2 linked regions of the Homo sapiens genome follow. The protein of the gene in region 1 purifies or fractionates together with the protein of each later gene. This does not show direct contact. Each region holds a gene or a part of one and is shown in the gene's direction. Other genes may lie near its edges.

Region 1 (3,500 bases):
CAGCTAGGTCTTAGATAAGAGAGTGAAATACATTTTACAGATGTGTACTTGATATATTTGCATGTGTTTTGTATAATCATATTGTTATACTGTGTATCAGATTTTAAGTATTTACTTTGGCATTCAAGAGACACTCGAAAGACTATACATCTGTGTATATAGAATGCATATATTCATGGATAGCTCCTGGTATGTTTTGCAACTAGAGTTCATATTGTACATAATGAGCAATTTGTAGCTTTTTTTCCTAATGACAATGCTTTATAATTGTTATTTGAAACACTTGAGAACATTTGGCTCTACTTGCAGATTGCCTCATGCTGTAGGAAATTTTTAAGTCTTTATAAGTTTCAGCATAATTGCCTAAGAATTTCATTGCTTATTAGCTGTCTGCTTTTTCATGAGCACATTTGTAAAATGGGTGAGGTAGGTCAAATGAAGTCTAACCCAATTAAGTGCAACAGTAGTAGCTTAAGCATTTCTGTTTTTTTTTTCCATAGTACGTTTGCATGTCTTTTGGATGTGTTTTGCATAATCATATTCTTACACTCTATATCAGATTTTAGATCTTAGCTTTACTGCTGCTTTCAGAAAACTCTGGTGTGATATCAGCCCCACAATTGGAAAGTCAGTGTTTATTTTAAGATTAGGAACAGGAAACTGCTAAGAAAAACATGTTTTATGAGTAAAGAAACAAAATGGAACTTTAGCTGCAATGAAGACAGAGAAGGCACTTTGAAAAGAGGATCACTTCTACTTTCCTAACTCCTGTACTTTTAAATTTGGAGGAATCTGTAATTCACCACAGTAACTGGTGAAATCTATAGGTTTTAGAAGCATAGTGCTCCCTCTTACTCCCCGGTCATATGAACTACTCCCTATTCTGTTGTAGAGACACTGCTTTTTGTCACTGCTTCTTTTTAAAGGAAAATTATCCTCAAGGATGTGCAGCAGTGGCTACTGAAAACTGGATAAACGACTACTCACCTTTCTTTATTTTTCTTATACTGCCATAATAATGTCACTACTTTCTTAAGTTTTTCTCCCATACCATAAACACTTATTCTCCGTGGAGCAAGAGTCAAAACTATGTCAGGCCACAACACCACTGAACTTTTGTAGATCAACATGAACTAATGGCACCTCTAAATGGCAGCATGTAGGTGTTATCTCAGTGATGCAGGAACCCACACTCCTGTAAATTCCCTCTGGTATATGCTCTCCATTGTCAAATACACACCATAATCTATTCCCTAGTACTCATCAGATTTGCAGCAGTTAACAAATAGGAGACATGCTTCTGGGAACTTTTTGAAAATCAGATAGAACCTCATGTACCCATATTGTGCATGCAGTGTGAGTACATGTTTGGGATGTGGCCTACTAGAGGAATGACACTTTGGAAGAGACCAGATCCATGGTTCTCCATGGGAGCTAGTTTTATGCTGCTTATCAGAATCGTGCAGCCCAATAGGAATGCAGACTTTGGACTCATGCACACCTGAATTCATATCCTCCTAATGCCTTATGGGGTCCTTAGGAGTTTTAAATGAAATAATACATGCAATGTACCTAGTGATGTGCCTTACCAATAGAAGATCCACAAATGACAGGTGTTAGAATGAATGTCACTGGGCATGAGAAAGGACAATGAGATCTTTGTGTCTCTAAGAAATGCAGGTGATCATTGTGTCACTGATCCCTTAATGGGAGCTAGAAGACTGGGTAAGAGAAAAAAGCATCCAATTAATACTTTCTGTAGCTTTGGGGTTTCTGTTTTTTTCTATTTCTAACTACCATATTTTACACCCAATGTGAACATATATGGAGGTGCCAGCTACATAAATCAACATGTTTCTACTGCACTGTACTTACTTTGATCTCTGGGAATGGAGGGTAGAGTCTCACTGCTAATGAGAATTGTTAGAACAGTGGTTTCCCAAAGGAGTGTCAGTTGTATATTTTATTCATGTACCACATGAACTAGATCAGTCTTTCATCTCCAGAAGGGTCTAGGCTATACTGAGAAGACCCCTGGCAGGAAAGCTGTCAATGAAGTTTCTGACATAGATGGGAACATAGTGCATGATCTTTTAAAGTCCCTTCTACCTTTAAGATATGGGGATTCTAAGTGCCTTATAGATTAGATAGAAGTCCTTTAGAGGTGAACAGACCCAAGTTTCTAGAAGTTGCTTGCATGTGGCTGACTTGTGATGCCTCAGGGATTATTGAATAAGAAAGAATGAACATCAGACATCAATTTTTTCACAAGGAAGTACTACTTTAATGTAGCTTAATTTTAGGAATCAGATGTTTAAAAGACGTACTCTACTCAGAACACTGATTTTGCTTCTAAGTGGAACTAGACTTCATAATTTAAATGTGTGAAAAAAAGAAAATTATATTTGTTATAGGTCATTGGGACACTATATCTAGCAAACATTTATTCAGTGTTTTGGTATAATTAAAAATAAAAAAACCCACCACCACCAAACTACTTGTGCCTAATTGAGGCAAGAGTTGAAGCTTAACTTTTTCTAATTTAGTTGGGTGACTAATGAACCGGTGAGGATTCAGGACAGGCATACCAGAGGGTGCTCAGAAATGAAGGTAATTGAGTCAATTATAGTACTTTTGAATAAATGCAGGGCAGATTGTCATTATGTGCAGAACTCTGATTTAAAATAATCATTGTTGGCATGTCTCCTTGCTGCATGTGTACAATTTCATACTCCTATAATGAGTGTTTTAGCTTGGGAGAACCACTTAGGGATTTTTCTCATTGCACTTGGCCATCGTTGTTTTATCCCATTGGGAAATGAGAAACTCAATTTTTAAAAATAAATCGTGATAGCATCAGGTGATATCTTGGGCTTGAAAATATAAAATCTTGAGCCACTCTCATTTCACTTTCTTTCTCATGACAGATGTCTTTATGAATGGAGTTGGCTACAGATTGTCTGGTAGAATTGCAAAATTGATACCTTGATTTAGTTTATAGTGGAAATCCTTTGTCCTTTGAACTTACCTATTATACTGCTTAATGATAATTGACATCATTTTAAATTTTGGCAAATAGATGTTGAGGTTGTTAAATAGTAACTATATATCATCTTAATTTTTACAGTCTTACAGGCCCCAGAATCAGAATGCCTGCTCCTCGGAAATGTTCACTTTGATATGCAAAATACAGGAGGACAGCCCAGCTCACTGTGCTGGCCTGCAAGCTGGTAACTTAAATTTTTGCTCATGTTAGGAATCATTTAAATGGAAAGAAAATAAAATGTTTTGAGAGTGAAGGTCAGGATGTATTTGTTGCTTTGAGTTTTCTTGGCTCCTTTATGTTTTTAAGACTTGGAGCTGCTTGTTTCATTTGCATGTCAGGAGGGATTATTTAACTAACCAACATAACACTCATTTTTCTTGGCATCTCCCAGGTGATGTCCTTGCAAATATCAATGGTGTGAGCACAGAAGGTTTTACCTACAAACAAGTCGTTG
Region 2 (3,446 bases), on another chromosome or scaffold:
TTAATTATTTAACCACTTGGCCTGCTGACCCCCTCATTTCTTGGGGTTGACAGAGTCGAGGTGCTCCGTGGAGCCAGCCTGTTTCCCTGGACAGGGGCCTGGACCCGCCTGTCTCTGGGTGCTGCCTGGGCTGTCCCGGTGGGTCTGTTCTGGTTTCACCCCGAGCCCAGCAGGAGTGGAGTAAAGGGAGAAGGTTAATATGGTGGGAGTCTGGAGTTGGAATTGGCCGGGGACAGAGTTTAGAATGCAGGGATTCAGGGTCAAGGTCTAGCATTCATTCTAGAAGTTACTTGACAGCCATCAGCCAGTTACGCTACAGCCATCAGCTAGTTCCCATCGTTGCTTTCATGGGGCTTGAGGTCTTTGAGGGGCAGGAGATGAAGCTGGTGAGGTTGTGAGCTGGGCCAGGGCTTTGAGGACAACCTGGAGCTGGAAGAACATGCGACCACCTCAGGGAGGGTCAGGGAAGGATGAGTGGGGAGGTGGCCCATGTCCTGCAAGGGCCTTGCTGATGGGATGTCCTGAAGGGCTGGGCAGCCTTAGATCGGGCTAAGAGGGCAGGACTGTGGGCCAGTGCCAGAGCCAGGCTTGTCTGTTCTCAAAGGATCAGCCTCCTTTGGAGGACATTTTGTGTCAAGGATAGGGCTGAGGACCTGCGTTCTGAACGTCTTTCCTGGGATTCTTGACAGCCAAAGAAATTCGAGGATCGCCTCTATGAAGGTGAAGTCTTGGCATGTGGGGTACCCCTGAATCCTGGGCTAAGGTCTGTGACCTTTTGCCCTCCAGTTGGGGTATGTGTGGTGTCCCCAAAGAACAAGGGCTCGTGGATCCCGAGCAGGGTGCGATGGCGGATTGGGAGGTCCCATGTCACTCTCCCATGCCCGCCTTTGAAGCTGAGGCGCTCTTTAGTTAACAAACTACAAGTCCCAGCAGGGACCGGGACGCGGGTGGGAGAGGCGCCTGTGGCCCCGAGGCGTGCCGCGAGTTGTAGTCCCTCCTGCCCGCTGTGTTCGCTTTTGAGCTCTCCGATGGGATGCGGCGCTTCGGAATTTCGGGCTTTGATCCCTGTCCCGCCCTTGGCCACAGGCACCTGCCGGCCTGAAGGCCCCCGCGGTGGGGGTACCCTGCGCCCCTCCGCGGGAAGGTGGACTACAGTTATCGGCAGGCTGTGCGGCGCCAAAGCCACGGTGACCCAGACCCGAGGTTTTTCCGGGCGTCGCAGTTTCCCGAGACTCCGTGGCGGCGTTTGTCTTCTTTTTCTTAGTCAGATCCCGTACTTTTGTGGAGGGTAGAGGAGGCTTTGACCGCCGCGGCCCCGGGGGCTGGTGGGAAATGGAGTTCCAAATGAGAAAATAGAATTCCCCACTTCTCTTTCCCACAGGTGCCAGGGAAACGGAGTCATCGACCCAAGAAGGTCGTGGGAGATGAGGTCCCAGGGTAAACAGCGGGTCCCGCCACTATGTCACCCTTTCCTGCCGCCTCCCCGGATGAACTGCATGCAGGGCGGCCGGCTCCGTGGCAGGCAGAGGCAGGAAGAGGCGCGGAGCCCGCTGGTGGCGAAGAGGGGAGTGCGGCGGGAGGGGAGGGCAGAGGCAGGCGGCCGGTCGCGTGGGGCCTGGGCCGCCCCAGGAGGGCCTCTGGCTGGATTCTTAGCAGATGGAAGCCGTGCAAGGGCAGGAGGCAGGGGCCTGACGTGTTTGGATTGAGGTTGCAGGAGGGGCCCCTGGCTGCTTCAGGGAGAATAATTTGGAGGCGAGCGGGGAGGTGAGAGGAAGCTGTGCGGTGCAGGATGGCGTGGCTGTGGAGGTGGAGAACGTTGGGCCACGCTAGGAGTCTTGAAAGAGGAGCCAAAAGGACTTGCTGAGAGCCGCCGCAGCTGGTGAATGACGGTGCCATGACTGAGGTGGTCGAAAGGGAGTATTTAAGGGGAAATCAGGCATTCCGTTTTGACCAAATTAAGCTGGAGATGCCTGTGGAACATTCCAGCCAGGCTGCATCACGTCACACTGACCTTCAGCATTGCCCACAGTCCATCTTCCCCCAGGACCTGAGGATTTTGCGTCCGGCTCCCTCCTCGCCCAGGACCCCCAAGCTCCCAGCACGCTTCTGATTTTTTTTGTAGGTTTTTTTTTTTGTTTTTTGTTTTGTTTTGTTTTGTTTTTGAGAGGGAGTCTCACTTTGTGCCCTAGACTGGAGTGCAATGGCGCCATCTCGGCTTACTGCAACCTCCACCTCCCAGGTGCAAGCGATTCCCCTGCCTCAGCTTCCCGAGTAGCTGGGATTACAGATGTGAGCCACCGTACCCAGCTAATTTTTGTATTTTTAGTAGAGACGGGGTTTCACCATATTGGCCAAGCTGGTCTCGAACTCCTGACCTCAGGCGATCCATCTGTCTCAGCCTCCCAAAGTGCTGGGATTACAGGTGTGAGCCACCGCGCCAGGCCTCAGCCCACTTCTTTTGGGTGGCAATGGTTTGGATATCGTTTGTCCTCACTAAAATTCATGTTGAGATTCGAGCCCCAGTGTGGCAGGTGTTGGGATGTGGGGCCTCATAAGGAGCTGTGTGGTCTTGGAGGTGGAGTCCTCATGGATAGATTAATGCCTGCCTTAAGGGGTGAGTGAGTGCTCACCCTTGGGAATTTGGGAATTTGGTTTTCTCTCCCTTGCTTCCTTCAGCACCATGTGATCTCTGTGCACACAGCTGCATCCTTCTGCCCTCCCCCAGAAGCAGCAGCAGCCTCAGGGATGAGGGAGGTCCTCAGTGAGTGCACCTGCCCAGTCTTGAACCTTCCAGCCATCAGAATCTGAGCCAAATCAACCTCTTCCTTTATAAAGACCCAGCCTCAGGTCTTCTGTCAGAGCAACACAAAATGGACTCAGCACGGATCAAATTGTGTCTCCCCCACCCCCACAAAAAACTTTATATTAAAATCCTAACCCCCAGCATCTCAGAATGTGATCTGATTAGGAAATAAGGTCATTGCAGATATAATTAGTTCAGATGAGGTCATTCATGTGGGCCCTAATCCAATAGGATGTGTGTCTTATAAAAGTTTGTACAGAGACCCAGACACACAGAAATGACACCATGTGGAGGTGAAGGCAGAGATTGGGGTGACGCCTCTACAAACCGAGGAAAACCAAAGCTGCCGGCACACCCTCAGAAGCCAGAGACCGGGGACTCATCCTCCCTCACAGCCTCAGGAGCAGCCAGGGCTGACACCCTCATCTCAGACTTCTGACCTCCAGCACTGGGAGACCTTCAGTTTTTGTGATTTAAGCCACTAATTTTGAGGTACTTTGTTATGTCAGCCCTAGATAACTAACCACTCCTCCCTCAGACCCAGGAGTCCAGGCCCAGCCCCTTCTTCCCTCAGACCCAGGAGTTGGGGACCCCGGCCCCTCCTCCCTCAGACCCAGAAGTCCAGGCCCCAGCCCTTCCTCCC

Evidence for each region. The genes of interacting proteins can lie anywhere in the genome.
Region 2: the proteins of CYTIP (region 1) and CYTH2 purify together in Homo sapiens (affinity purification with mass spectrometry; 3 studies listed by BioGRID and IntAct, with this or other methods). This does not show direct contact.

What each region holds. Positions count from the first base shown.
Region 1 is NC_000002.12:157,430,590-157,434,089, reverse strand, and holds part of CYTIP (cytohesin-interacting protein), read left to right. Parts: intron 1-3,127; coding exon 3,128-3,230; intron 3,231-3,437; coding exon 3,438-3,500. UniProt on the Homo sapiens protein: By its binding to cytohesin-1 (CYTH1), it modifies activation of ARFs by CYTH1 and its precise function may be to sequester CYTH1 in the cytoplasm.
Region 2 is NC_000019.10:48,479,369-48,482,814, forward strand, and holds the end of CYTH2 (cytohesin-2), read left to right. Parts: 3' UTR 1-2,946; downstream 2,947-3,446. UniProt on the Homo sapiens protein: Acts as a guanine-nucleotide exchange factor (GEF). Promotes guanine-nucleotide exchange on ARF1, ARF3 and ARF6. Activates ARF factors through replacement of GDP with GTP.